4 linked regions of the Homo sapiens genome follow. The protein of the gene in region 1 purifies or fractionates together with the protein of each later gene. This does not show direct contact. Each region holds a gene or a part of one and is shown in the gene's direction. Other genes may lie near its edges.

Evidence for each region.
Region 2: the proteins of C16orf87 (region 1) and MIER2 purify together in Homo sapiens (affinity purification with mass spectrometry; 2 studies listed by BioGRID and IntAct, with this or other methods). This does not show direct contact.
Region 3: the proteins of C16orf87 (region 1) and MIER3 purify together in Homo sapiens (co-immunoprecipitation; 3 studies listed by BioGRID and IntAct, with this or other methods). This does not show direct contact.
Region 4: the proteins of C16orf87 (region 1) and VRK3 purify together in Homo sapiens (affinity purification with mass spectrometry; one large-scale study listed by BioGRID and IntAct). This does not show direct contact.

The regions. Positions count from the first base shown.
Region 1 is NC_000016.10:46,798,421-46,805,748, reverse strand, and holds part of C16orf87 (UPF0547 protein C16orf87), read left to right. Parts: intron 1-1,302; coding exon of another isoform or gene 1,303-1,373; exon of another isoform or gene 1,374-1,413; intron 1,414-2,678; coding exon 2,679-2,797; 3' UTR 2,798-7,328.
Region 2 is NC_000019.10:339,770-347,785, reverse strand, and holds the start of MIER2 (mesoderm induction early response protein 2), read left to right. Parts: upstream 1-2,989; 5' UTR 2,990-3,003; coding exon 3,004-3,012; intron 3,013-3,311; exon of another isoform or gene 3,312-3,961; coding exon of another isoform or gene 3,962-3,976; exon of another isoform or gene 3,977-7,272; intron 7,273-8,016. UniProt on the Homo sapiens protein: Transcriptional repressor.
Region 3 is NC_000005.10:56,932,527-56,939,854, reverse strand, and holds part of MIER3 (mesoderm induction early response protein 3), read left to right. Parts: intron 1-837; coding exon 838-972; intron 973-2,156; coding exon 2,157-2,277; intron 2,278-4,103; coding exon 4,104-4,189; intron 4,190-4,354; coding exon 4,355-4,427; intron 4,428-6,456; coding exon 6,457-6,608; intron 6,609-7,328.
Region 4 is NC_000019.10:49,985,111-49,992,438, reverse strand, and holds part of VRK3 (serine/threonine-protein kinase VRK3), read left to right. Parts: intron 1-2,667; coding exon 2,668-2,800; intron 2,801-3,946; coding exon 3,947-4,067; intron 4,068-5,505; coding exon of another isoform or gene 5,506-5,602; exon of another isoform or gene 5,603-6,140; intron 6,141-7,328. UniProt on the Homo sapiens protein: Plays a role in the regulation of the cell cycle by phosphorylating the nuclear envelope protein barrier-to-autointegration factor/BAF that is required for disassembly and reassembly, respectively, of the nuclear envelope during mitosis.

The DNA.
Region 1 (7,328 bases):
ATCATCCTAATCTGATGACTACAGTCAAGCTCCACGTATGTGTATGTTTCTAATCAGCTTCTTTGGTCACTCTCCTAAATATGAGCATATTGCCAAGAATTACCCAGATATCTGGAAGAAAGCATCTATTATAGTATGAAAGGCTAAGACCAAATCAACAGGAGAGAAAAAATAACTTGGAAAAAAGCAAGATTTTGCAGGGAAAAGAAAAACTATAAACTACTATTAATATCTTTAGCAAAAGAAGCAATTGTAATTGTAAAATGAACAAGGTGATATTTAAAAGGAAATTGCAGAGGTCAAAAAGCCAGTTGGAAAATGAACTTTAAAATATTCCAAAAAACCCCAAAACATAGATGATACACAGAAATGAACAACTTTAATAAAAGGCTTAAAGATAAAATTGAAGAAAGGTTCCAGAAACTATAACAATTGAAAAGAGATGGAAAAAACAGAATGGAAACCTTAAGAAATTTAGAGGACCAGTATGAGGTCTGACATCTGTAAATAATTAAAGTTTCAGATAAGGAACATGGAAGATGGAGGAGAAGGAAGTCATCAACGACTTTAACAATGACAATTATTTATTCAAGAAAATTTTTCCAACCTGAAGGACATTGAGTTTCTTTGTTAAAAGGGCCTACAAATTCCCAGTCTAAAAAGAGAAATGATGGTTAAAAAGAGAAATTATACCAGAGTTCGTCATCATATCTCATATCTTTGGTTAAATAAAATTTTTCAGGTTTTCAGAAAAAAGAAAAGCAAAATGATATTGGAACTAATACAATGCAATATTGCCCAGCAAAGAACAAACTACTGATATATGACTAGCATCAATGAATTTCAAAAACATGTTGAGCAAAATAAGCTAGGCACAAAAGAGTACATACTATATATGATGCCATTTATATGAAGTTTAGGAACAGACAGAATGATTCTGTGGTAATAGAAATCAGAACAGTGGTTGCTTGTAGGTGTAGAGAGGGATTGGCTGGAAAGAAGCATGAGGAATTTCTGGAGGAAATTTGTTATATGTTGATTGTGACATGGGTTACATGTTTGTATATGTTTGTCAGAACTCCTCCAGTTGAACACATAAAAGATCTGTGTATTCACTATATGTAAATTTATCATTGATTTTAAAAATAACTATAAAAAAGGTATTGGTTTTCTCAACAATGGCACCAGTAGTCAGAAGACAGTTTACTGCCTTCACAGTTCTAAGCGGAAACCTACAAGTCTATACTCAATCAAACTATGAATTAATGTGAAGGTAGACTAAAGATATTTTCTGACATTCAGGGTCTCAAAAAATTTGCTACCAATACTGCCTTTCTCAGGAAGCCCCTACAAGTTACCTGCTACCAAAATGAAGAAATAAACCAAGAAAGGATCTTTGGATTCAAGACAAAGGTGGGTCCACCCAACTCTAGAGATGAGAGTCTCCAGCATGATGCTGATGAAAGAGCACAAGATGATAATTTTGCAGTAGGCCTAGAGAGCAATCATTTCATACTGGAGCAGGTTGGAAGACTTGGAGCGATTTCTTCAAGAAGATAAAAATGATAAAATACCTGATACGTGTAAACATCCTGAAAAACAATTTATACAACTAGGAAAGACATTGGGTTGAGTTAGAAATGAAAACTAAGCAAGTAAAAAGAGAATCACTTCAGGGAAAACAATGTAAAGGAAAAGTGAAAAATCACTTACCATAGGCATAATAATGTAATCACTGAAAACTGATGTTACTAAAGTTGTGATTTAATTATAGTGAGAAGATGAGGGATGGGCAGAGTGTTTATTGGGGCAAGAGATGCAAAACAGTGTAACCCTTATTTTCCCTGGTGGAAAGTGAATCAGTAATGCCTAAAACCCTGAAGTAGCATCTTGTACAAATGTTACTTAGAGATTTGTTTTTGTAAAAGCAAAAAGGAACAACTGAAAAAAAAAGTCACAAAAAAAGTAGTTGCATTTGGAGAGTGGAAAATGTGTATGGGGCAAAGGACTTCTGTTTTTTTTTTTTAACAAGTTTTATAAAAATGATTTGATTGTAAATTATATGCATTTAACTTTGATTAGACTGTCAAAACAAAATAAACAAAAATAGAATCAGGGGATCCTGAAAAAGTAACTTGGAAGAATATACACCAAGATGTTAATTGTGATTTTTGCTGACTCATGAGATTACGAGTGATTTTTATTTTCTTTTTCAAATTTTCTGTGAACTTGGATTACATTTGTAATCGAGAGGGGAAAAATAAAAATAAATGTCATTTCCTGTATAAGAAGATGAAGATGAATATGTTAATGTATTCATAAAGTCACCATTGATGTTCAGAAGGGGACCATCTCTCAGAGTGAATTTCGTCTAGCAGAGAAAATTCATTTTGATTGAGACAGTGAGGAGATAGAAATGTATGAGATTCTTAGAAAAATTATGTAGCTGTTAGAGTGCCTGTGTATAGAAATAAATATTGTCTTCATTTAATCTTCATTTCAGTAACTCCTTTGTATAATTTAAAAAACTTTTTAGTTCAGTAGCATAGTAACATTTAATGTATATTGTAGTATTATATATAATACTGTCATTTAAAGAAATACTTGAAAGCTTTAAAAAATTTAAATTTACTGCATCTACTGCCTTTATATTAAACTTTCCCTTTTTCTTTTAACAGAGAAACAGGAAAAGGAAATTGACATCTATGCTAACCTGTCTGATGAAAAGGCTTTCGTGTTTTCAGTCGCCTTGGCAGAAATAAATAGAAAAATTATCAATCAAAGACTTATTCTCTGATACTTGTTTGCAAAATCTGCTGAAACTTCTGTCAGGATAACATCAGCAAATTCTCAAACAGTTATGGACTCTCAGGAGCATTCTGACTGCATCAATAAGGGCCATCGATTGTTTCTTTCTCGCCTGTCGTTTAGCCTGTGCCACACTTCGGGAGCAAAGCTGTGTAGGCTTGGACTGTTCTGGGATTTCCTTGTTTACCAAGGAGTATTGTCAGTGTTTTGTGTTTGGGATATAAGTAAGTGTATTTGCCAACAACAAAAAAAAACCAACAAAAATGCTGGATGGATGTTAAAGGATAAAAAGTGATGGGGTATGGGGTAGGTATGAAAACTAGGGTAATAAGATGCTTGATTGTTTTCAGGTTTGCCACCAGAGATGCAATATTTTAAATACTGTCAGAAAGAGTGATTTTTAAAAATATATATTTCAGATTTTCAGTGCTAACAGATTGCATATATACAGTTCATTTACTTTTATTAAATTGGCAATCGATATTTTATTGAATGGGGAATTAAGAATATAAACTGTAAATTTTGTCTTAAATTGATTTTTTTTCTTGGCCTTTATTTTTATTACTTAAGGTATGAGTTATATTTTAGGAGATACTTTCTAGACAGTTTGAAGTTTGGGTGCTATATGAAGAAAAACATTTAATGATATACTCAGATATAAACACCTTGTTTTCTTGAATGTAATTTATTTATTAGCTAAAAAAAAAAAACAAACTGCTCTCAAGATGGTGCCTGTTAACCTAAACATGAAATATATTTATTACATGCAAAATATTTCTTAGCCACTTTTAAGCAGTAATGTTTTATCTGAATGGATATTTGTTTCTATATCCTGATAATTATTTAAATTGTTACTTTCAATCTGGAAGAAAAAATAAACCTTAATATTGAAACTAAGTAGATTAAATAGTGTGATAAAAGTTTTTTGTTCTGGTGAAGTTTGTGAAATATATTTAAATTCTTAATTTTTCTAGTGTTAAGTCATAATCGTTTATAGTTGATTTATATTAAATGCTTTTGCATTTTGGCATATCAATTTAATGATTAACATATTCAAACTTGGTAATCACTCCCCTTATTTTCAGTCGCTCTTCCCCCAATCTGTTTAGAAATCCTTTTAAAGCCTTCTTACAGAAGATAGTCATCAGTTAGATTTAGCCCCCTTTTAAGAGAATCTCCCTTTCAATTTTAGCCGTAACATTATCAATTTCAGACTTCATCCTGCATCTCCCATCACCTCCTCAAAGAAAAAAGGTCAACATTTTTTCCTACTTTATTTAAATGGTAACCAGCAGAGGGAGCTTAAGAGGTACTCTAGATAGGATAAAGAATTTTCCTAAGGATTCCTTTTCCTTTAATCCCTGTATCTATCTGCAGGTACTACTGCAACTATTTTGTATGCATTTTATTTATTTATTTAGGAGACAGAGTCTTGCTCGGTCGCCCAGGCTGGAGTGCAGTGGCACTGTCTCAGCTCACTGCAACCTCTGCCTCCTGGGTTCAAGTGATTCTTATGCCTCAGCCTCCTGAGTAGCTGTGACTAGAGGCGTGCGCCACCACGCCTGGCTGTTTTTTTTTTTGTATTTTTTAGTACAGATGGGGTCTCAGCATGTTGGCCAGGCTGGTCTCAAATTCCTGGCCTTAGGTGATCTGCCCGCCTTGGCCTCCCAAAGTGCTGGGATTACAGGCATGAGCCACTGCACTCAGCCTTGTGTGCGTTTTAGAGTCTTAACTAGTAGTTTCCCCAATAATGTAATGTGATTTTATCTTTGAAACATACTGTAAGGAAACTTTTGATTTTAAGTAAAAAAGCTTAAAAATGATTAATATCTAAAAATGCTTGTATACATATATATGTCCTCAGAAAAAGCAAGAACAGCTTGTGGAATAAGCACGTCTTTAAGGAATTATCGATGTCAGAGTCTATCCATTTAAAGCTGAAGACCATTACAGGAAAGTCATGTTAAAATATTCATTGGATATGGTAAAGGAGGTACTGGTGGCTGGGCTGGAGCTTGCCGTATAGAAAAGTAATTACTTCAGATCTCATAATGTTAAATTATTGGCTTATTTAAAAATTTCCGTGGCAGAGAGGCAAATTAGGTTTCCTCTGTGACATAACCTATTTAACCAATTTTTCAAAAAATTGTACTCTATGAGCTTTCTTGTTATAAAGCTAAAAAATTTAATTTGTCTAGGCATGTTGTAATGGTCCCAGAAAATATTACTTTGTCACTGGTGTCAGAGAAACCTCTGTCATCAGCAGATGTCCTAAGAGTATAATTATAGTTCTTTACTTAATCCAAAATTTGTTCTGCTCTGATATCTATAAATGATATGATTATTCAAAATACCTTGAAATGATTCCACAATTAGATTAGGTCTGTTGAAGATAACTTATTCTTAAATATGAGTAAGATTAAATAAAAGTAGTTTGAGAGTTGTTACTCCCTGCCTCAACTCCATGGTATTCCAAAATGTTTTTGTGGGCACTTTAATACTTGTAGTTTGATTTTGTTTGTTAGTTTTAGAAATGAACATTTCTTAGATTTTCATGGGTATTTTTTGGCTGTATTTAAATGTAAATGATATAAAAGTAAGGGAAATTGTGCAAATTATTTCTTGTGTAGTAATCAGTGGAAGTGATCAAACAGCTTGAAGCAGTTTATGATGAGAAAATTTAAAATTGCAAATGACCTGAAAATTTAGCCAGTCTATTCTTATTTCTTTAAATTTCAGAAATACTTAAGAAAAAAAAAAAAAAGGTCAGTATGACCTCTGAGTTGCTTCCTAAAAGTAATCAGATAGTGTTCTCCCTCAGATAAGATTTCAAATTGAAAAGTATTTGACTTCTTTAACTCTAGTAATTGCACTTGATTCTCTAATTCTGATCATTAAAATGACTTGGCAATATTTAATTTTGGCTTGCCTTTCAATCTGCATGTTTGTCTTAAATTTAGAAAAATTAAGCTCTTTACTTACTTTTATATAAAGTATTAATTGGCCAGGCATGGTGGCTTACACCTGTAATCCCAACACTTTGGGAGGCCAAGGCAGGAGAGTTGTTTGAAGCCAGGAGTTTGAGACCAGCCTGGGCAACATGATGAGACCGCGTCTCTACAAAAAGTAAAATTAGCTGGGTGTGGTGCTTCCAGCTACTAGGCAGCTGAGGCTAAAGGATCACTTGAGCCCAGGAGTTCGAGGCTGCAGTGAGTGATGATCTTGCCACTGCACTCCAGCCTGGGAGGCAGAGCAAGAAACACCCTGTGTGAAAAAAGTATTGAATTTGTTTGATTCCACTTTCAAAATATGCTCTAGATACAGGTAGTCATTCTGCCAAATTGTGTTCTTCTCTAAAACATTTTGTCCGTCATTCTTTGAAACTCATTCTTAATTATTTCCACTTTACCTTCTAGTTTGGTTTGATGCCTTATATTCTTGCTAGTTAAAAGCATTTTTTCCCTAGTATTTTCTGTCTTTCTAGCCTTTAAGGCATATTGTTGTTAACAAATCTCTTATTTAAGTTAATTAAAGTTTTTTCTGTGCAGCTGGGTTTTTTCTTTTACTACATGACAAGCTTCATTTTTACATTTGGAAGTACATGTATATATGTTTATATATTTTTATTCTCAGGATCTATTTTCTAGGGAACTATTTTTTTAAATTATTCTTTTGTGCTGCCTTAACCCATTTATTATAGTTTGAATATTAGTAGTACTTACTACTCAAAGATTACAACTATACTAATAACTATCCTAACATACAAAGCAGACTCTCCAGGATTAAAAGTATGAGACATATAACAGAGTCTGGAATAGAATAATTCTTTTTACCCCAGTCAAGTATTTGCCTTTTGCATTATTAAGGAATCTGTTTTGTTCTTTTATTGATAATTTCTATATTTTTTTCTTTGCCTTATTGCACTGGTTGGGACTTTTTGCCTTGATCCAGTTGTAGGGGGGAAACATTCAGTCATTAAGCATTAAATAACTTTGTTGTTGTTGTGGGCTTGAAAAAATACCCTTTAGTAGATTGAGGGTAGACTCTTTTATTTCTGCTTGTTGGAAGTTTTCTGTCAGGAACAGATGTTGAATTTTGTCAGATGCTTTTTCTGCATAATTGATAGGACCTTTTTTCTCCCCTTTAGAATGTTCATATGGTGAAACATACTGATAGCTTTTCTTTTCTTTTTTTTTTGACACGGAGTCTCACTCTGTCACCCAGGCTGGAGTGCAATGGTGCGATCTTGGCTCACTGCACCCTCTGCCTCTTGGGTTCAAGCTTCCCTCACCAGCCTCCCAAGTACCTGGGTATACAGGTGTGCATCACCATGCCCGGCTAATTTTTGAATTTTTAGTAGAGATAGGTTTTTACCATGTTGGCCAGGCTGGTCTTCAACTCCTGACTCAGCCTCCCAAAGTGTTGGGATTACAGTCTCGCTCTGTCGCCCAGGCTGGAGGGCAGTGGTGTGATCTTGGCTCAATGCAACCTTGCAACCTCTGCCTCCCGAGTTCAAGCGA
Region 2 (8,016 bases), on another chromosome or scaffold:
GGAGAATGGCGTGAACCCGGGAGGTGGGGCTTGCAGTGAGCCAAGATTGTGCCACTGCACTCCAGCCTGGGCAACAGAGCGAGAATCCATCTCAAAAAAAAAAAAAAAAAAAAAAAGATTTACACAGGTTTATCTTTTCTGGCATTAACTTTTTTTTGTTGTTGTCGCTGTGGTTTTTTTTTTTTTTTTGAGACGGAGTCTTGCTCTGTCGCCCAGGCTGGAATGCAATGGTGCCATCTCGGCTCACTGCAGCCTCCACCTCCCGGTTTCAAGCGATTCTCTTGCCTCAGCCTCCCGAGTAGTTGGGACTACAGGTGTGCACCACCACGCCCGGCTAATTTTTTGTATTATTTTAGTAGAGATCAGGTTTCACCATGCTAGCTAGGCTGGTCTTGAACTCCTGACCTCGTGATCTTCCTGCTTCAGCCTCCCAAAGTGCTGGGATTACAGGTGTGAGCCACAGCGCCTGGCCTGTTTTGTTTTGAGATGGAGTTTTGCTCTTGTCGCCCAGGCTGGAGTGTAGTGGCGCAATCTCAGCTCACTGCAACCTCCGCCTCTCGGGTTCAAGTGATTCTCCTGCCTCAGCCTCCTGAGCAGCTGGGATTACAGGCACCCGCCACCACGCCCCATTGTGGCATTAACATTTCTGAAGAATACAGTCCCTCTTTTGTTTAACAGAATATTCCTTATTTGGGTTTGTCTGAAATTTCCTCATATGTAGATATGGGTTGTGCATTGCTGGCTGGATTCAGTGATGCCGTGTCCTGCTTTGGACACCACATCCAGGTGCACATGGTGTGCACCTGCCCTTTACCAGGGATGCTGAGTTTTATCACCCACCCAACAAGTGGCTTCATTTCTCCACTGCGACTAACAGTCTACGGAGACAGACTTTCAGACCTTAAAATATCCTTCACTCTTTTTTTTTTTTTTTTTTGAGACAGGTCTCACTCTGTTGCCCAGGCTGGGGTGCAGTGGCACAATCACTGCTTACCGCAGCCTCGACCTCCTGGGCTCAAGAGATCCTCCCACTTCGGCCTCCAGAGTAGCTGGGACTACAGGCACATTATCGTCATGCCCTCTAATGTTTAAAGTTTTTTTTTTTTTTTTTTGAAACAGTGTCTCACTCTGTTTCCCAGGCTGGAGTGCAGTGATCTTAGCTCACTGCAACCTCTGCCTTCCCAGGTTCAAGTGATTCTCTTGCCTTAGCCTCCACAGAATAGCTGGGATTATGGGCACTCGCCACCACGCCCGGATAATTTTTGTATTTTTAGTAGAGACAGGGTTTCACCCTGTTGCCCAGGCTGGTCTCAAACTCCTGACCTCAAGTGATCCTCCTGCCTCTGCCTCCCCAAGTGTTAGGATTAGAGGTGTGAGTCACCGTTCCAAGCCACAATACCCTTCTCTTCACCCAAGTCCTCATTTGACATCTATGTGATGATTCTTGCCAAGCCCTCTCCTAAGAGTCTTCCCTCGTTTTGCCAGGTGGACTCAAGCCCTTGTCTTCGGGCCCCTCCACCTGTTACAGCACAGCACCTCACTCTCTTATCTGTTCATGCTTCTCCCTGCTTCACAGGACCTCTGGCTACCCAGCACCCAGTTGAGGACTGCATAAGATATGTGTTTAGTTCACTGAATGACTGAATGAATAATAACAAATGAATAATAAAGGAAGGAACCAACTCTTGCACAAATCAGTGAGGACTCTTCAACACGAGGGCCAGAACCCTCAATCTCAATGATGTAAACCAAAAAAGGAGTGAGGGTAGACCCCTCCAGAGTGGTTCTTCTATCTCTTGGTTGGTGAATTCTCAGAGGACTGAGTAATGATTTTGCATCAGGAATCAAGGCTGATGCATGTCAAGTTCTCACTATTCATTGGCTGATCACTGGGAAACAGGAATGAGACTCATTCTCTTCTTCCTGGTCCCCAATTCCCTTCCTCCTGGTCCCCAATTCCCTTCTTCCTGGTCTCCAGTTCTCTTCTTCCTGGTCTCAGTAGGAACCGCCCTCCACTCATTTGCGCAAGCCAGACATCTGGAGGCCATCCTTCACTCTCTCCAGCTTCCCTCCATCAGCGAGTCTTGTGGTGTCCACCTTCTCAAGTCTCTCTGCACTCTGGTCCAGGCCCCACAGCTCCCACCTGGCCCCTGCCTCTTCACGCCCCACCCCTGCTTCCTATCCTCTCTCTGCATCGTGCGCCCCGAAGATTCACGGCACTTATCCGTCTCAAATTTAAGGTGTGGCGAGTCCTTGCCTTCCCATCCTCCACTCTAAACGCCCTGAAGACAGGCGTTAGGGCTGTCTCCTTCAAACCCTCAGGATCAGAACGTGCACGTGTTCCAGAAATGTTCAATCTGCGAAACGACGGACTGCAGAACCAAATGGCCCTGGGGTCAAGCCCACCTCCCTGCCTCCCGCCTTGGGCTCTCCGGCGCGGGGCCACCGTTTCTAAAACCTCTCCGACTGGTGCGCGTTCGCAAGCTCCCCGATTGGTTCCTCCGCGCGCTAGTTTGCTCATCACGGGTGCGAAAGTGCAGAAAATTCCAGAACCACGCAGCCCGGACACCAATTCTGGCTCTATCACTGACACTCTGGGTGGCCCGTCGCCCTGGGCCTCAGTTTCCTAGTCTGCCACGCGGGGTATTAACAGCGAGCAGCCGAGGGAATGAAGAGGTCACACAGGACCACGTGGTCCCCACGCAGGTGTGATTATCAGGAATTCGTATTTTTATGGAATGCAGTCTCCTCCGCCAAGGCCAAGGCCAAGATCAGGGTCCAGCAGAGACGGCCGGAAAGACACCGCAAGCTCGCCAGAAGCCGCCGGCCACGCTCGGCTGCGCGCCCGCGCCCGCGCCCGCGCACCTACTACGCGCCCGGCCCGCTCTCCGCCCCCTCCAGGCTCCGCCCCCTGCCCCGCCCTCCAGGCTCCACAGCCAATGAGTGCGCGGCCCCTCATCCGGGGATCCCGGCGCGGCCACCGCCTCCCGCGCACACACGGCCATGGCGGAGGTGAGTGAGCGGGCCGGGGGAGCCGGCCCCCCGCCCCCGCGCGTCCGCGCCCCCCGCCGCCGTGGCTCGGCCTCGTCGTGGGCCCCAGGGACGGAGAGCCCCGCTCTGGAGCTCTGAGGCCGGCCGGGGCGCCTGGCCCGTCCGGGGCCGGAGGGGCGCGGGGCTCCATCGGCGGCCGCCCCCGGCCGGCCCCCACCCCCCAACTCCCCCGGCTGCCACATCGCGGGCTGCAGTGCGCATGCGCGGCGGCGCGGGGCGGGCGGGGGCCGGGGTGGGGGAGGGGAGGGACGCGGGGCGGGGCTGGTGTCGGGGGTCCGGTGGGCGCGCGGCTCCGTTCCAGGGTCCGGCTCCGGTTCCCGGCCCCGGCCCGGGCCCCGCGGCGCGCAGGCCTCCCCTCCCGCGCCTTTGCCAACTTTGCCGAGTGCTGGGGCCGCCAGGCGCCCCGCGCTCCCCATCGGGATCCCGGTGGACCCACCGCGCCTCCGCCGCCCGCGAGCCCCCCGGCGGGGCTGGGTCAGACCCCGGGCGGGATTTGAACTCCCGACGCGGACCCGCCTGGCGCGAACTGGGCGCAGGGTGGGTGGGTCTGCCGGGGCCTAGAGAGCGTCGGGGCTGATCTCAGAAGAGTTGGACCAGCCTCTCCCGGGCACGAAGTTACTTCTGGAGCCTCCTCCCTCGTCCAGGAAACAAGCCCGGGACCCTTTATCTGAAATGTTTGGGACCAGCTATATTTTGGAATCCAGAATTTTTCCAATTTGAGGATCTGTGGGATTTTGGACTGTGATGTTTGATCAAACCCACCTAGGACTGTCTAGGATAAGACAACAGATAGCTTCGTGTCAGGTCAAACCAGGAAGGAAGAAACTTTCGCTTTTGAAGCTTTTTTTGATTTTGGAGTGGTGGATGAGCCTGTGTGGACTTGCTTTCACCTTGGAGGGCCCTGGTGAAGATGGAAAGAGATAATGTAGGTGAAGGTGCGGCGGCTGCGAGGTGCTCAGTCAGTGGGACTCAGTGCATGACTTCTGTGCGCAGAAGTTACGACAGGCGGGCAGACTCAAGAGCTGATCCTATCTCTGGGATAGAGCCCAAAGGAAAAGGTGCCCACCCAGCCAGGCACAGCCGCCTCGTGGGAAGCCGGGATTGGAACTGCGGCCTGGCCGTGGTGCCACGTTGCGTGTTTATGTCTTGGGCGTTGTGGGAGGCAGGACTGGCCATTCTCTCCCCCTGGTGACGACCTCAGGGGCAGTAACAGGCCCTGTGTTTATGCCAAAGACGGTGTAGGTGTCTCGATACTAGGCCAGACCACCGGCCAGTTCCTTCATCGAGAATTAGTTCTTCTTGAGACGCTTAGGGAGACTGAGTCCCCATGCAGATGGTGGCTGTCCTCCAGGGTCGGAGGCAGAAGCCGCGTCTCCCAGTGGCCCTGCAGCGACGTGGTGGTCGAATGAGTTGTGCTCCTGGAATCTGGGCAACACACGTGGCCTGACAGGTAGCTCTGTGTCTGGGATGGCACAAGTCAGACTCCCAAGCCAGCCTCCCCCAGAGCTGCCATGTGGCTGTTCTGCCCTGCTCTAGGCTGAGCTCCGTAAATGTGCACAGCAGCTTGTGGTCCGGCTGCTCCTGTTAACCCTGTTTTACACTTTGGGGTGGTGCCCTGTTGAGTGAATTTGATTTGATTTTCTAAGGAGGTCCCGCTCTGTCCTCGGCCTGAGGATCTGGGAGTGAATGGAGCAGACAGGGCCTCTCCTACAGGGATGCAGAGTCTGGTCAGAGAGAGACGTGGGTGGGTTAGGACCAACAAGTATGAGGTGCTGAGCGTGAGGAGCCATGGCAAGCTGTCTGACCACCGGACTTGTTCTGTGTGGTCTTGGGCAGGTTGCCCAGTGACTCAGAACTTCCTTTTCCTCATCTCTGAAATGGGAAGTTTAATGGTCACCCTTCAGAGCTAGGAGGTCTGATGAGGTCCTGCCACAACGGCTTGTACATGGAAGTTGAATCTTGTGAAGTTGACGATATTCCACTGTTTTTAACCCGTAAAAGTGGCAATTTGTAACTTTATAGCACGTGATCAGTACTAGCTACTTTATTCTGTATCAGTATCCCAGAATAATCATAAGCACCACAGTGGCAGACGGGAATGCTTCATACTTTTCTCAGGCATACTAGATTGATCTTTTAAAAACCTAAGAGCACCATCTTTTGCTCCTACCTAAAACCCTCCATGGCTTTTCATGGTCCCTGGGATAAAATGCTCCTCCTTGCTGAGTCCCACAGCCCTGTGAGGTGGTCCCCACGGATCTGCCCCCTACTCTAGGGCCCTGGGCTCCTGTTTGCTGGTGCACTCTACCCATTTGGGGGCTGCCAACGATGGTTCCACCTCGACTGAGGCCCCCCAGGCCTTCCCTGACCCGCAGTTGCAGAGCCCGTGCGCCCTGTTTTCTCTTCTCGGTACCATACATGTCCACTTGTTTGTTGTCTGTGTCCAAAACTAGCAACTCCATGTGGGTGGAGGCAGGTGGAACTTGTTTCTCAGGTTAACCACCACGCCACTGCCTTGCTGAGCCCAGAGTGGGCGCCCAGGGAACATTGGTCAGACGGAGGAGTGGGGTGCTGGGTAGTCCAACAAGCGCCTGGCACTTGAGTTGGTGTGGGTGGGAGGAGGGTCAAGCATGGCTCTTAGGAGGAGGTTGTTTCAGTCACACTGGGGAGAGGGCTTGGGGCATGGGAGAGGTAGGTGCAGCCATCTTGGCGAATGGAACCTGCCACCCTGTCATTTTGGGTTAAGCTTTGCAGGGTGGCCTCTTGTGTTTTTGGTGCACTCTATACCTGTGGGGGCTGCCCTGGGGGAAGGGCTGGTCTGTGCTCTGCACCCAGTCCTCTGGTGCAGTCTTTATGTTGAGTAGCTGGCTGCCGCTTCTACTGCCTGAAGACCCTGGTGGACGCCTGGGTCTGTGGCCTGTTGTCCTCTGGACCTTGTTTCTAGAATGCTGTTTACGCTTCCTTTGCTTTTTTTGTTGCCTGGAATACCGTTGGCCTGCTCCCCCTCTTTTTCCTGCTTCCACTTTGACAAAACAGAGGACTTTGTCTTTCCTGGGAGTGAACTCAGAGGGAAACATGCAGAGTGTTCTGAGTGAGTGAAGTAGAGTCCCTGGGAACCTGCTTTGAGAGTAGACTTGCACCTGGACACCAGGCAGGGGCAGCGGGAGGAAGAAGATCCATGAAGTCTGTATTCCGTGGTAAGTTCCAGGAACTCAGAGTCGCCTGGAAATGAACTTGGGGATCCCAGGCTGCTCAGGGCCTCCCTGTTAGCGGCCCTTTCTGCCGTTCCCAGCCGCTTCCCTCTTTGCCCCCCTCTGCCTTAGCTCTCCTGTTAAATGGCACGTCATATAAGGGCCAGATCCTCCTCAGACCCTGCAGACCACCTCTCCTGGGGCCATATGTTAACTCCCTGTTACTCGGTGTGGATCTCAAGCCTGCGGGACTGTTGTCAACTTGCCGTCCAGACTGGGGCCTCATTTGATGTGGTCGCCTGCCATCCCCTTGTTAGTCAGGCTCCTGGTTGCGGGAGTAGAAAGCCAGCCCCTGACTGAGGCAGGAACCGTTGCCCAGAGAACCTGTCCTCGACCCCTACCCAGAGGGTCCTAGAGGGGGCTGAGGGTGATTTCAGAGGTCACTTAGGATGCTTTCCCTGTGGCTTCACACCGCGTGTGGCTGTGTAGAGTGGTTGTGGGCTGGTGGCCACCTGCTGTGTCCTGGAAAGAGGTGAGGCCATCTCTGCCAGACCCAGGCCAACCCCAGGGCAGGAGGCGTGAGATGCCCCTGCAGCTGCCATGCACTCTGTGCTGCTTGCTTCCAGTCCCGTGGCCCCTTCCCCCTGGGGGCCCTGCTGGCTCTTCCTTCCCTCTGTCTTCTGTTTGCCCTCTGCCACCACGGAGCTAAACTTTCTAAAGCTGGATGGGTCCTGTCAGTCTCCACTTAGAGCTTGAGGTGCTCCTTGGTCCTTGGCAGCCTTGTTGCCAGAGTCACTCCAGGGCCAGTGGCTGCCCCAGCTCCCTTCCGTGGCTTTGCTGTACGTTGCTGTACAGTTGGCCCTTGAACCTCACGGGTTTGAACTGCATGGGTCACTTATACATGGATTTCCTTCCATCTCTGCCACCCCGAGACAGGAAGACCAACCCCTCCTCTTCCTCCTCAGCCTACTCAACGTGAAGATGATGAGGACGAAGACCTTTAGGATGATCCACTTCCACTTAATGAATAGTAAATACACTTTCTCTTTCTTACAATTTTCTTAATAACTTTTTCTGTAGTTTACTTTTTTTGTGAGAATACAGTACATAATACAATATATAAAATATGTGTTTATCAACTGTTGATGTTATCGGCAGTGCTCCCGACCAGCAGGAGGCTATTAATCAAGTGTCGGGGAGTCAGAAGTCATGCATGGGTTTTCACCTGTGTGGAGGGTTGGCACCCGTAACCCCTGCGTTGTTCAAGGGTCAACTGTACTAGCCGTTGTGTTCCCCAGTAGTGTGATGGGCTGGAAGGTGTTTGCAAGCCGCTGGCCTGAGCTCCACTTTGTAACTGCACCACTGAACCTGCTGTGTGAGCTTGGGTAACTGACTCTATCTCTTTGAGCTTGTTTCCTTGTTTTTTTGTGAGGGGAATGATTATACCACCTGTGAGGTTTTTTCTTGAGGACCCGTGAAGAAGTATTGAAATTCTTACTACACAAGTTTTTAAACTTCATTAAATATTTTAATCTACCCTTTTTGGCAGCAGCTTTCCCGAGGTATAATTCATTTACCATGCAGTTCACCGTTTTAATGTGTCCAGTTCAGTGGTTGTTAGTGTATTCACCCAGTTGTGCAGCCACCATCACAGTCAATTTTAAAACATTTTCATCACCCCAAAAGGAACCCCACACCCCTTAGTGGTCACTCCCCAAACCCCAGATCAACTCCCAGCCCCTTTCCACCAGGAATCCATTTTCTGTCTCTACGA
Region 3 (7,328 bases), on another chromosome or scaffold:
ACCACAGCTGTATGTGCATCCTGGCTGTATATGCAGTCTGCATGTACTGAATGTTACGTTGTGCATGGTAACACTTATTTTCACATGGATTCCTAGAGGGGAACAGTGACTTGGTGTCACTGTGAGGCATGGCGTAGGTATTCATAACATAGGCAGCACTGTAGCCAGGGTATGTAATTTTATTAAAGCAGTGCAGCCAGTGAGATAACTTGGGGAACTGGGATTCAAACCCAGAATTAAGCCACAGTTTTCTCACCTGTGAAATGGTGATAACAGTATAATCTTCCTCAGACAGTTGTTTTAAAAAAACTGGTATAAAGATAGGAGATGTAGTAAGAATATAAAAGGATAATTGTTCTTTGAACATAAATATTGCTGATGTTAGTAAACATTCAGCAAAGGTTTTCTACCAGGTGTCTTCTAATTAACATGAAGAATAAAGCAAGTGGTCAGCTGTTAAATGCAAGGAAAGAAGCTGTGAATTACAAGTTATTGATTGATTAATTGGAAATGTTTTCAGGGCAAATCTTTATGTTAACTTGAAAGCAAAAAAAAAGGCACTAAAGCAAATATTTGAGGAATTTTTAAAATAGTAAAATGCTTCTAGAAAATAAAAACTAAGGTGTTAATTGTTAGGCTGTTGTTTATACATTAATTATAGCTCCAGGTGTTTGGTCCTGTTTTCTGACAACAGCACAAAAAGAAAAACTGAAACTTGCCTTTGATTTGTTCTGCTGTTTTGATAATGTGCTTTCTGAACCTAAGGACAGTACAGTTTACCTGCAGTTCAGTATTGTGACATCTGCTGAGTCCGTGTTTATGCCCTGGCTTGAACAGGAAGGAACCATGCCTCTAGAAGATTTACTGGCATTCTATGGCTATGAACCTACAATTCCAGCAGTTGCAAATTCCAGTGCAAATAGTTCCCCAAGTGAACTGGCAGATGAACTACCAGACATGACACTAGACAAAGTAAGTGTGAGCATTTGAAAGAAAAATTCAGGGTCTGTTACCATTGACTGCTTTTACTTCCATTTAAAGTATTATTTAATAATTCTTAAATGTAAACTTCTTGTTGACCCATTGTGCTTATTTTGGTGGCTGATTTAAACTTTGTTTGGCTTTGATCACCCTATGTTAAGAGTAGTATTAATAGCAGCTTCATGGTACTTTGCATGCCTGAATATTCTCCCATAATGTTTTCATCTTTCCTGTGTAGACACATTGTATCTAAACTTAGATTTTGCCTTAACTTCTTTTGATCCTATAAACACATAAAAGCCTTGATTAATAAATCCCCCAGAAGCCTTCAAACCAAGCTGGCTTAGGCGTGGAGTGGTTGGAGAGAAGTTCTGTTTTCTTGGCTCTGGGAGTGACAGCGGCCGCAGCAGCCAAGACCGCGGTGATCCATCTCTAACGTAGGCTGGTTGTGGGGAGGCCTAGTCCCTGCTGAGGAAAATTCACACGGCCATGGCCTCTGCTAACAGATCCCTGGGAACCTTTCCTTGCCTTTCAGATCTCAGGCAGGGAGAGGAATCCACATCTTGGAACCTCTTCCTGTGAGTTATATTGTTCCCACTTTTAAGTCAATGTGATATTAATGTACCACAGACCTTAATGACCATAGTCATTCAACAAGTATTTATTGAGTGGCTACTTTGTGCTAGGCACAAGGATGACTGTATACTTACATAAAAATTAATTCAAACTTGTTTCTTTTAAAATTATGTCAGTAGTCAGTGCTGTTCATTAGTCGGACTTTTAAATTATTGGAAGAGTGGAGGTTGGAGGCATTTTTTCAGTTTTATTATTGACAGAAAATGAATATAATTGTTAACCACTTAAAAGTCAGACTGTTTTTGTTGTAAATTCACTAAAAATTAGCCTACAGCTTTAGATAAGCTCTCTGCATACCCACAAATTAGGCAATTGTTTTAGTATATGGTTGCACTGATTATCATTTAATAGTATATTATTGAATATTATATAATATATAATATTAAATATTTATGTACATGAAGTAAATCATAGGAGAATTTCATATTTCTCTCATAAGGTTCCAACTGCTTCTTAATGATATGTTATAAAAAGATAGTTTTCTTAATTAATGAGATGTAATCATTTCTAACTGTAGCACTGCCTTCTTATTCTTCCAGGAGGAAATAGCAAAAGACCTGTTGTCAGGTGATGACGAGGAAACTCAGTCTTCTGCGGATGATCTGACGCCATCTGTGACTTCCCATGAAACTTCTGATTTCTTCCCTAGGCCTTTACGATGTAAGAAACCCAGTGGATTACTGATAAATAGTAACATTGATACTGTAGCTTTAGTACATTTTATTGTGTTCAGTAATTTGTGTCAGAATATTCTAATATTTTATGTGGTTGAGATAAAATACTTCTATAATTTAAACAAGATTATAACCTTTCTTTTGGGATAGAGGTGAACTAATATGCCATTTAAAAATTGAAATATTTGGCCAGGTGCAGTGGCTCACACCTGTAATCCCAGCACTTTGGGAGGCCGAGGCAGACAGATCACTTGAGGCCAGGAGTTTGAGACCAGCCTAGCCAACATGGTGAAACCTGTTCTTTACTAGAAATACAAAAAATTAGCCAGGTGTGGTGGCATGCACTTGTAATCCCAGCTACTTGGGAGGCTGAGGCACGAGAATCACTTGAACCTTGGGGGTGAAGGTTGCAGCCAGCTGGAGATCATGCTACTGCACTGCAGCCTGGGTGACAGAGAGAGATTCTGTCTCAATAATAATAATAATAATAAGATAAAATAAAAATGGAAATATTGACTTTATTTTTACAAGGCCATTTTCCTTCTCAAGACTCATCTGTTGCTATGGTAATCATTCTTAGTTTGACCACAAAATTTTATAGACCTTTATTTGAATTTCTATTAAAAGGCTCCTGCTCTCCTGGTTTTGAAAACTTATCAGTGCTCAAAAGGTATTTTTACTTTTAATGATTCATCTTTTTCCTATTAGTTCTTGGTGTTACCTCTTAATGTTTATCAGTAATATTTAAAAGGTTTTGGGGTTGGTTGTGTGGTTGCAACACTTTGGGAGGCTGAGATGAGAGGATCACTTTAGGCCAGGAGTTCTAGACCACCCTGGGTAACATAGCAAGACCCTGTCTCTACAAAAAAATTTTCAAATAAAAAACTTAGCTGGGCATAGTGGCATGCACATGTAGTCCCAGCTATCTGGGAGGCTGAGGTAGGAGGATCACTGAAGCTCAGGACTTTGAGGTCACAGGGAGCCATGAACAGGCTACTGCTCTCCAGCCTGGGTGACAGAGTGAGACCCTGTTTCTAAAAATAAATAAATAAAATGTTTGGACTAAAATAATTTCTTAGATGCAATCTCACTTTTTTTTTTTAGGTATTTTTATGATAGAAGAACTGTTTGGTCAATAAGTTCAAATATCCATGCATTCGTGTGTGTACAAAAACAGTTTTGATGGACCTGATATGCAACTCTGTGTGTGTATCTCCTGGATTAGTATAATCAGAACTCCAGTGTTTTACTTTCTTTTTAAGGTGACCACAGTGGTTTCCTTTTACCTCCCAAACTATTTAATAGTATACCATAATAATTATCAGGATACTATACACTTTTTTTTTTGAGATGGAGTCTCACTCTGTTGCCCAGGCTGGAGTGCAATGGCGTGATCTTGGCTTACTGCCACCTTTGCCTCCCAGGTTCAGGCGATTCTCCTGCCTCAGCCTCCCGAGTAGCTGGGATGACAGGCACCCCCCACCACGCCCGGCTAATTTTTTTGTATTTTTAGTAGAGCCTGTCGGCCAGGCTGGTCTTAAACTCCTGACCTCAAGCGATCCACCCACCTCAGCCTCCCAAAGTGCTAGGATTACAGCCATGAGAGCCACTGCACCGGCCAGGATACTATACACTTTATTAGGATTTTCAGTGTCTCATTTTGACCAATGTCGATTGTGAGAAACATGCAGGTGGTTTAGTATACTTATGCTGATCTCACATATTTAACAACATTTTGTAAAATACAACAGGCATTCTTCCAGGTTCTGCAAAAATAGGCAGTAAAAACCTTTTTAATTTTTGTCTTTTAAGCAAATACTGCATGTGATGGTGATAAGGAATCAGAGGTTGAAGATGTTGAAACAGACAGTGGTAATTCACCTGAAGATTTGAGGAAGGTAAGCTGAGTTAATATAGTGGACTAAATTGGCTTTTAAAAATATTTCTGAAATGATTTATGATAATTTTGTTGTTTTGACTTGTAGAAACTGATTAATGATATGGGGCTTTTTTTCAGTATTTTTTTTTTAATAAGTTATTTTTACCTCTCAATTTTCCTGTAGGAAATAATGATTGGTTTACAATATCAGGCAGAGATTCCCCCTTATCTTGGAGAGTACGATGGTAATGAGAAAGGTAAGGAAAGCTTTTGATTTTGATAATGTTTGGTAGATAAGGTTACCACTTGATAAGTGTATTTAAATATCTGGCTTTATACCAGCCTTGGCAATAGATAGATAGATTTGGGAAACATGCAGAGTTAGGATTTTTAGGCCTGACTTAGGAAAAATGTATCAAAGTTAATCACTAGACTCAGAGTTTCCCCCCACCCCCAACCCTGCCCAAGGCACACATAGTGCTTATTAGCCAGTGTGCTCAGTGCCTGTTCGAATAATGGGGAGCCTCCCACGGTGCTGTACCTTGGCCTTCATCCTGCTTCAGTAGAAGTGGGTAGGATCTCATCACCTGAGATAATGAGAATGTTAAGATATAATCTTCTGGAAAGAAAACTCTTGAGGGAAAAAGAGACTGGAAGAAATTCTCCTTCCCCAGCCCCAAAAGAGCAGGAAGTGAAATGTAAGGATCTGCTTTCACTTGTATACTCCTAATTATGTGTAATCAGTTTTTCCTCATGTTTTTGGTGCATTCCAACTGTAGTTGGTTTTCAAAATATGGAGGGGATAAGGTAGTAGGATATAAAAATATAGGTAAACCTTCTTAGTTGAACTTGGGAATATTTCCATGGGTGTTTGGCCTTTTCCCTAAGTTGATTTATCCTTGTGAAGTCACAAGGGCAAAAGCAGCACCCAACACAATACTTCCTGAGTCCTTCTTTTTTCCTTTCCTCCATGCCAGGTCATCCTCCATTTAAAGGAGGGGAGGAGTGGTTACCCTGGGGTTGTTAGCCATGGCAGCCACTAGGAACACCGTTTTCCTAAACTGCTTTCAAAGTGTTAAAAGACAGTTATCCCAGGGGAAGCAAAACATAGCTGATGATGTTCAGATGTGCCAGCCTTCTCACCTCACCACCCAAATGCCACACTTGGCCTTTGAGCCAAGTACATACTCAGCAACTGTAGGTCCTTAGGTCACACATAGTAGAGGTGATATTCTGTCAGTGCTGCAGATTGGAGGGAAGGTGTACTTTCTCTGTCTTTTGAGGGAATAAACCCAAATTGTTTTACCTATTTCACTTGTGACCAAAGAGTAAAGAAAGTTCTAGGAACTTCTCTCAAAAGTCAAGTCTTACTGCTTCACAGGCACACTTTATTTTTAACTTTCCTTCTAACTGGCAATGACAATGCCTGCCTCCTACAGTTGGGATGATAATGCCCTTATCATGGTCCCTGGTATCTGGTAGTGTGTTCTCGGTAAATTATTTTTATTAGCTATAGTCAGTATTTATTATGCACTTGAAGAACAGATTGCACTTGAAGCACTGGACTAAATACTTGGGCCATTCATATTACTTTATAGTGTAAAGTAGAAGCTTTGAGTAAAGTGGCAGAGTGCATTAATAAAACATAAACTTGTTTTAATGACATTTTGTTCATTAATATATCAGTGTCTTTAAGAGATTGTGGAAAGTTTACTTTTCTTACTGTTTCTCCCTCTTCCCAAAAACCTCCCTAGGGAGGTTTGGTTAATCTATTTTCTCCTTTAAATAAAAGTTATCTTGTTGGGAGAAAAAGTATACCCTTCTTAGGTATTTCCTTATTACCAGATATTTTGGGTTTTATTTATTTGCAATTTTGAACCTCTAGAGATTTCATAGAGCAATTTAGGGATTTCAAGAGAAAAGTCCAATGAGGTTATTAGAGAATTTACACAGGTTATTTTTGCCCCTTCATTAGAAGAGTATAAGATAACCACTATGGGGTTTTATATTAGACTTTACTAGGCATGGAGAGCCTTCAGATTGGTCAGTATATCCAACCACCAAAAAAGCTACTTGCTTTGGCCCCTGGAATCCTTGGCCTATAATAAAGTTAAATTTTCGCTTGTGTGTGAAAGGCCCTACTTAACGGATAATCGGATTACTGGTGTCTTCAAAGTTATTTACTTGTCCCACTGGATAGCCAATCAAGGAAGACAAAGAATTGTTTGTGTACATCTTTGAGTGCGTTCATGATTTTTAATGTGTTAATGGGATTTTCTTTATCAGTATATGAAAACGAAGACCAGTTACTTTGGTGTCCTGATGTGGTTTTGGAGAGCAAAGTTAAGGAATACCTTGTTGAGACTTCATTAAGGACTGGCAGTGAAAAAATAATGGATAGGATTTCTGCAGGAACACACACAAGGGACAATGAACAGGTATACTTCAGCTTCTGTTGAAACAGCAGCCAGTTTACAGTATCTTCTTGATTTCTTATATTTGATACAGATATTTTTAACATGTGAGGTAGATATCTTTTCTGATAAGAGTTTTAAAATATGCAAAATACTGGTTTAAAAAACCATAACCTTGAGTTCTAGAGATAACTTCACTGTAGTTTTGTATCTTTTCTTCTGGTCTTTAAAAAAATACCTTTACATATGTCTTCCTTGAGATGCCATTTTATATCCTTTTAATTAATTAATCTTATTCTCCTTTGCCATTGAGAATTATTTAATACCTCATTCTTGATGTCTGTATAGTCTATCCTATACTTTTTAAAAAAAATTTTTCCCTAAATTTCAACATACTGTGTACTTATCCTATACTTGTAATTCATTTATTTAAACATTCTCTGTGGTTGGACTTTTAGATTTTATAAGTGTATTCTTTGAATTATTCTCAACTTTATTTAGGAAGTGATTAAAAAGTAATGTCTATTAAGACTATATAAATTTGACTTAGGAGCATTTGTTAAGCGCTTGTGTACCTGTAGATTCAGAATACTCTCCTGATCACATGTGGGATGGGGGATGGGAACATTGCCTATTAAGCTTTTCGAATACCCCTAAGTTTTGCCCCTCTGAGATCATTCTGCTTCTTTCATATGCTTTTATCACTGAGAATCACCAACCCTGACTAATAAGTATTCAGAGGTA
Region 4 (7,328 bases), on another chromosome or scaffold:
AAATGCACCTGTTTTTTGTCTTTGATTTTGTTTTGAGATGGAGTTTCACTCTTGTTGCCCAGGCTGGAGTGCAATGGCACGATCTCGGCTCATCACAACCTCCACCTCCTGGGTTCAAGCGATTCTCTGTCAGCCTCCTGAGTAGCTGGGATTACAGGCATGCGCCACTACGCCTAGCTAATTTTGTATTTTTAGTAGAGATGGGGTTTCTCCATGTTGGTCAGGCTGGCCTCGAACTCCTGACCTCAGGTGATCCGCCCGCCTTTGCCTCCCAAGGTGCTGGGATTACAGGCCTGAGCCACCGTGCCCGGCCAAAATGCACCTGTTTTTTGATCCACAAGTTCCTGTCTTAGGAAGGTGTCCTACCTATATATTCATAGGATTGTTCAAAGATAAGTGTACAAGATGTTCCTGGCAACACTGATTGTAATAGTGAAATGGGAAACACCTTAAGCGGGATACTGATTAAATAGTATTTTAAAGTAACTTCTAATTGCTCTTACAATTACAAATGACAGAAACCCAACTTTACATGCCTTAAGCCAAAAACCAAAAGGGACTGTGTGCAATGTATTAGTCCACAGAATGGAGCAATCCAGGACTGCACTGTCTCGGGCACGGCAGGATCCAGGAGCTCAAACCCTGTCATTGGGAAGCCGGCTCTCCCATCTCTGGACTCCTCATGCTTCTGCACTGCTCGTTGTCAGGCAGACTTATTCCTCATGGTGACAAAATTGCCACCAGCAAATTAGGCTTAAATCCCCAAAGCTTAGCAGCCCTGGCAGAAACAGACCTGAACTGCGTGGACTGAGAACTGGGGAAAAGCAATCCCAGATGAAAATCCTGGAACTAAGCATTAGGAATCTTCAGAGAAACAGAACTGGCAGGGTGTGTGTGTGTGTGCGTGTGTGTGTGTGTGTAGAGATTTATTATAAGGAATTGGCTTATTGATAATGGAAGCTAAGCAGTCCTGAGATTCTTCAGTTTGCAATCTGGAGACCTAGGAGAGCCAATGATGTAAGTTCCAATCCAAAGGCCAGCAGGCCTGAGACCCAAGAAGAGGGGTTGTTTCAGTTCAAGTCCAAAGGCAGGAAAAGACCAATGTTCTAGCTCAAGCAGTCAGGGAGGAGGAGCTTCTGGTTACTTAGCTTTTTATTCTATTCACATCTTGAGTTGATTGAATGAGACCCACCCACATTAAGGAGAATAATCTGCCTTGCTCAGTCTACAAACCCCAATGTTCATCTCATCCAGAACACCCTCATAGACACTCCCAGAATAGGGTTTGGCCAAATGTCTGGGCACCCCATGGCCCAGTCAAGTTGCCACATAAAAATGACCATCATGGCCAGGCCCAGTGGCTCACACCTGTAATTCCAGCAGTTTAGGAGGCCAAAGTGGAAGGATCGGATCGCTTGAGCCCAGGAGTTCGAGACCAGCCTGGGAAACATAGGGAACCTCATCTGTACAAAATAAAAAATAATAACCTATCCAGGTGTAGTGGCATACACATGTGGTTCCAGCTACTCAGGAGGCTGAGGTAGAAGGATCACCTGAGCCCAGGAGATGGAGACTGCAGTGAGCCATGATCATACCACTGCACTCCAACCTGCGTGACCCAGTGAGACCCTGTCTCAAAACTTAAAAAAAAAAAATTATTTTTTTAATGAACACCACAAACTGTAAACAGAAAAACAGGGAGCCGGGGAAGTGTATATAGGTCTTACATAGACAAAACCAACAGTTGTCCACTATCCATATGGTGGAATAAGATGCAGCCATTGAAAAGAAGACATGGACTGGGCACAGTGGCCAAGGCAGGAGGATCACTTGAACCCAGGGGTTCAAGACCAGCCTGGGCAACAGGGCAAAACCCCATCTTTACAAAAAATCGGCTGGGCATGGTGGTGCATGCCTGTAGTCCCAGCTACTCGGGAGGCTGAGGTGGGAGGATCACTGGAGCCTAGGAGGCTGCAGTGAGCCGTGATCGCGCCACTGCACTCCAGCCTGGGTGACAGAGTGAAACCCCATCTCAAAATAAATAAGTAGATATTTTTGAAAGAAGATTTGGTTAACTTTATGTATCAGGCAGAAAGCATTTAACTTTTGTTTTAAACTCAGTTAAGCCTTATAAGAACCCTTTGAGGTGGGGACTATTATTATCATCATTTTACAAATGGAGAAATCATAGCAGAGAGAACTGGTATAGCTTGCCCAAGGTTGTACCGCCACCAGCGGGCTGAGTTGGCATTTGAACCCAGGCCATCTGGCCCCAGAGTTAATGCCCAGAACCACTATTAAAGTGTAAAGTGCCGGTGCCCAACAGGAGGTCTGGTGTGAGGCCTCTGTGGAAAACAAGAGCCCCCTCCCCATCCACATATGTTTACCTGGTTATTTAAAAAAAAAAAAAAATTTTGGAATGATGCATACGAAACTGTTACTAGTGGTTATTTCTGGGCGATGGGTTTTAGGGGCTGGGAGGAAATATGGATGGCTGGTTTGGGTTCTTTTTACTTCACATCATTTTTACTATGAGCATGCCTTAGTTTTGTAAGTGAAAAATGCCATCTTTGGTAGAATGTTTGTTGTCACTTGCACCCACGATGGAAATCTCTGACTTCTACGCTCCTAACCTCCAATCTGTATGGCTTTTCCCTGTGTCCACAGGTGACTTTGGCAGGCTATGGCTTCGCCTTCCGCTATTGCCCAAGTGGCAAACACGTGGCCTACGTGGAAGGCAGCAGGAGCCCTCACGAGGGGGACCTTGAGTTCATTAGCATGGACCTGCACAAGGGATGCGGTACGAGGCCAGGGATGGGTTTGGGACCGCAGAGAGATGCTTCTTATACAAGGGCAGCTCTAGGAGTTCACAGCCAGAGACAGCAGGTGGCCAGACAGGAGAGGCACTAAGGGCGCCAGGACAGGGATTGGAACCACAGACAGCGTCCCGACCGCAAGGGAGGTGGGTGGGGTAGCGGTTCAGCACTAAGCATAGTGGGAGGCTGGGCACTGGGGAGCCTGAGTTCCAGAGGTTGGGGTTCAGGATCTGTTGTAGACTTGGAAGATGGGAGTTGCCTAGGAGTCATCCAGGAGGGGCTGTTGAGGAGGTGGTTGGCCACCACATCTGGAGTGTGGGAGGGAGATCTGGGCAGAGGCTCTGCAGTATCTCAGAAGTTATCAGCCGAAGCCCTGGGAGAGGATGGGATCATCCAGGGAAAGTGTACAGACTAGGAAGAGGGCCCAGGGCAGATTTCTTGAGCCCCTCTTTCTCACATCCCTTTATATCATGGCCGTCCACATGCCTGCCACATCCTCCCATCAGACTGAGCTCCCCCAGTACAGGGATGGCACCCCTGCCTCCAGCATCGGGTGGTGGAAGGCCAGCACGGACAAGTAGTGCTTGTCGAGTGCTTACACAAAGCGTTGTCTAAATTAAGCGTTGTCTTATGCTCAGGAAGCATAAGAAAAATAAACTGTCAGAGTCTCCCCCGCCCTCCCCCACTGAGGCTGGGTTTGGTACCCATCCTTCTGGGCTCCCGTGTGTTCTGTGTCCTTTGTCACTCAGGTAGTCGCACGCTATAGCTGTCTCCCCACTAGGCTGTCACGGGCTGGGACCCGACGAGATCCTGGTCTGGGTTTTCAGAAGTGAGCTGGGCCTGGCACACGGGTGCTGAGGCTTGATTGAATGAGTGCATGAATGAAAGAGGAGTGGATGAGGGTGACCTGGTAAAAGGGGCTGAGAGAATGGTTGAGTGAGAGAGAGAATGAGTCAGCTTCTGCCTACTCATGAAAGTGAATGAGCGGAGGAGACAGCCCATATGGCTGGAAGGCTGGGTGTATGAGTGTGTGGTTGAGTCAGTGAGAGAGAGGGGAAGGAAGGGGGGTGGACCCACCAGTGAGTGGAGCGTCCAGACTTGAGCTGCCACCTTTACTCCTCCTTCCCCAGGGCCCTCCCGCCGCAGCGACCTCCAGAGCCTGGGCTACTGCATGCTGAAGTGGCTCTACGGGTTTCTGCCATGGACAAATTGCCTTCCCAACACTGAGGACATCATGAAGCAAAAACAGAAGTGAGTCTAGGGGTCAGCAGAACCCCTGCAGGTGGTCAGCAGAACCCCTGCAGGTGGACAGAAGCCCAGAGCCCAACTGGGAGCAGGAGGGAAGGGGAGGTGGCATCCAGCAGAGCCCAAGTCCTCTGAGCCGCACAGGCATGTGCTGCAGTGTCCACACAGCAGGCGAGGCAGGTGTTCCGGAGCCACACTGCCTGGGCTCAGACTCTGGCACCACCACTGTGGGGTGTTAACGTCTGCGAGCCTCAGTGTCCTGCTCCATGAGATGGTCTCCTACTAGCTACTACCTTATGGGACTGCAAAGAGTTCAGGGAAGTCAGGTGCACACAGCACTTAGCACAGGGGCTGGCTCAGAGAAAATGCTCATTGTGGCCGGGCGCGGTGGCTCACGCCTGTAATCCCAGCACTTTGGGAGGCAGAGGCGGGCGGATCACGAGGTCAGGAGATCGAGACCATCCTGACTAACACAGTGAAACCCCGTCTCTACTAAAAATACAAAAAATTAGCCAGGCATGGTGGCGGGCGCCTGTAGTCCCAGCTACTTGGGAGGCTGAGGCAGGAGAATGGCGTGAACCTGGGAGTGGGAGCTTGCAGTGAGCCAAGATTGCACCACTGCACTCCAGCCTGGGCGACAGAGCGAGACTCCGTCTCAAAAAAAAAAAAAAAAAAAAGCTCATTGTGTGTGGGAAACTATGACTCATTCATCACAAACATGCAGGCAATCTGAGCAGGATAGGCCCAGGCCCTGCCTCAGCACTGGTAGCACCACCTATGCAGTGTCCACACTGCCAGATCAGTGCCTTCACCTCTGTGTAAACCACCAGGTCTTACCAGTGCTGGTTTAAACATTCAGCACCAAAGCCGGTGGACAGCGGAACATATGAGGAAGTTCTGGGGTGAGATTGAACACTAAGGGCATTGAGCAGCTGGACACAGAGGGAGCACTAGGGGTATGGGTTCAGCACTAGGGACAGCAGGCAGCTGGGCACAAAAGGGAGGCACTAAGGTGTGTGTTCAGCACCAAGAACAGCAGGCAGCGGGACACAAAAGGGAAGTGCTAGGGATGTGGGTTCAGCACCAGGGACAGCGGAGCACAAAAGGGAAGCGCTGTGGGTATGAGTTCAGCACCAAGGACAGTGGGCAGCTGATCCTAGCGGGCGTGCTAGGCATGCACTTCAGACATGAATATCAGTTGCCCAGGCCGGGCACGGTGGTTCACGCCTTAATCCCAGCACTTTGGGAGGCCAAGGCAGATGGATCTCGAGGTCAGCAGTTCGAGACCAGCCTGGCCAACATAGTGAAACTCTGTCTCTACTGAAAATAACAAAAATTAGCCGAAGCAGTGGTGGGCACCTGTAATCCCTGCTGAGGCAGGAAAATTGCTTGAACCCGGGAGGTGGAGGTTGCAGTGAGCCGAGCTCTCGCCACTGCATTCCAGCCTGGGTGACAAAGCAAGACTCCGTCTTGGACTTGTTGCCCAAGTCATCTGGGAGGCAGCTGGCCATCTACGTCTGAAGTGCAGGAGTGAAGTCTAAAGGGAGACTCAGACCCCGGGAATATCTCCGGAGCCATCAGCTGAAGCCCCAGGAGAGGATGAGATTATCTGGGAAGGCATATAGAGTGGGAAGAGGGTGAACCCTCCAGTAAATGGCGTTGAGTCCCTCATGTTTCCCTGTCCTTAGTGTGCCGTGAAGTCCTTCCCAGTCCTTCCCTCACATGAAGCCTTTCTCGTTTTATTTTACTCCCTTCGTGTCTCCCAACTTCCTTCTCTCAACCATGGACAGCTGCTCAAGCACACTTAACATGTGTTCTGATGTGTTCACTTAGATGTATTTGTACCCTCAAAATCGCATGCTGGCCGTGGTGCTGTGTGTGATTTGCGTAAGTGATGTTCCACTCTGCGTCTCATCTGTCTCTGGCTCTCTTCAGCTTTAACCCTATCCCTACATGTGGACCGAGTTCACTGCTTCTGACTCCGGCTTCTAAATCAATTTTCTATAGACATGTCTGTGTCCTTAAACTATATATGGTGGTACTGTGTGTTAATTTGTATAAATGGCACTATGCTCTAAACCTCATGCTGTTTCTTGCCTTCTTTCACTCAATGTTATGTTTTTAACTTTAACTATACACCTAGTTCACTACTTCTGAATACTCCTAAATGTGTTAGTTTAGATGCATCTGTGTCCTTAAAAACTCTATGATGTTCTTGGGTATGTGTTTAATTGGCATAAGTGGCACCATGCCCAGAATTTCATCCTCCTTCAGAGAAGGGGATGTGTGTCGTCATTTTGACTTCCTTCTACTGACTGTTCAAAGCTAACATTTATTATACACTTGTCTGTGCCAGGCACTGCCCCTGGTGCTTCCCCTGCATCCTCACAACTGCTCTGAGCTGCGTGCTCTCGTGATCTGTGGCACAGAGAGCTTAGGTAATCAGTCCAGGCCACACAGCTACTAAGCAGGGGCTCCTGGGCTCAAACCTGGGCCATTCAACTCCAGAGACAGCCCATGTCACCTACGTGCTGCTTCCCAAGTGGAGGAGGCTTATGAGGTGAACTGGTGGTTCCTGGACCCAGCCTACCTTCACTCAACAAATACTGAACCCTTGCCATGTGCTAGACTCTGTTCTAGGCCCTGGGGATACAGGAATGAGTAAGACAAAAATCCCTGCCCTCAGGGAGCTCACATCCTATTGCGGGAGACAGGAGCTAAAGGGTGAAACACATGGTGTGTCAGAGGTCAGACTGATGAGGGTCATGAGGCCAGGTCCTGGGTGTCCACTGGTGGGACTGTTGGTGGGGGTGTGCAGCACACTTGTAGGTCTAATGTCAGGGGCAGGTCTCGCAGCGATGGTAACAGGTAAAATGCCCCCTGAAGGACCATGAAGCTTTAAACAGTGGCAAGAAGGATGACACAGTTTGATGCTAATTTGCCCCAACATCCCTGCGGAAAGAGGAAGAGACAGGCCTTCAGCCCCCAGACTTCCGCAGGCAACCTCTGCATGGGAAGCCAGCCTCAGGACCTGCTAGAACACAAGTCCATTGCCCCATTTTCTTGGAGCTTATTTTTACACTTACTCTCTAGCTTTAACAGATGGTGCTGGGGTTTTCTGCTCACAGTGGTGAGACAGGTTTCTTTTGAAATGAAGCCAGGTGAAAACGAGTCACAGAATGAGTGGCCCGCTGGAGTCCCTGTGTAAGTGAAGGTAGTGAAATGCTCCCTCACACACTCTAATGGGTTAGTTCAGGACAAGACTGA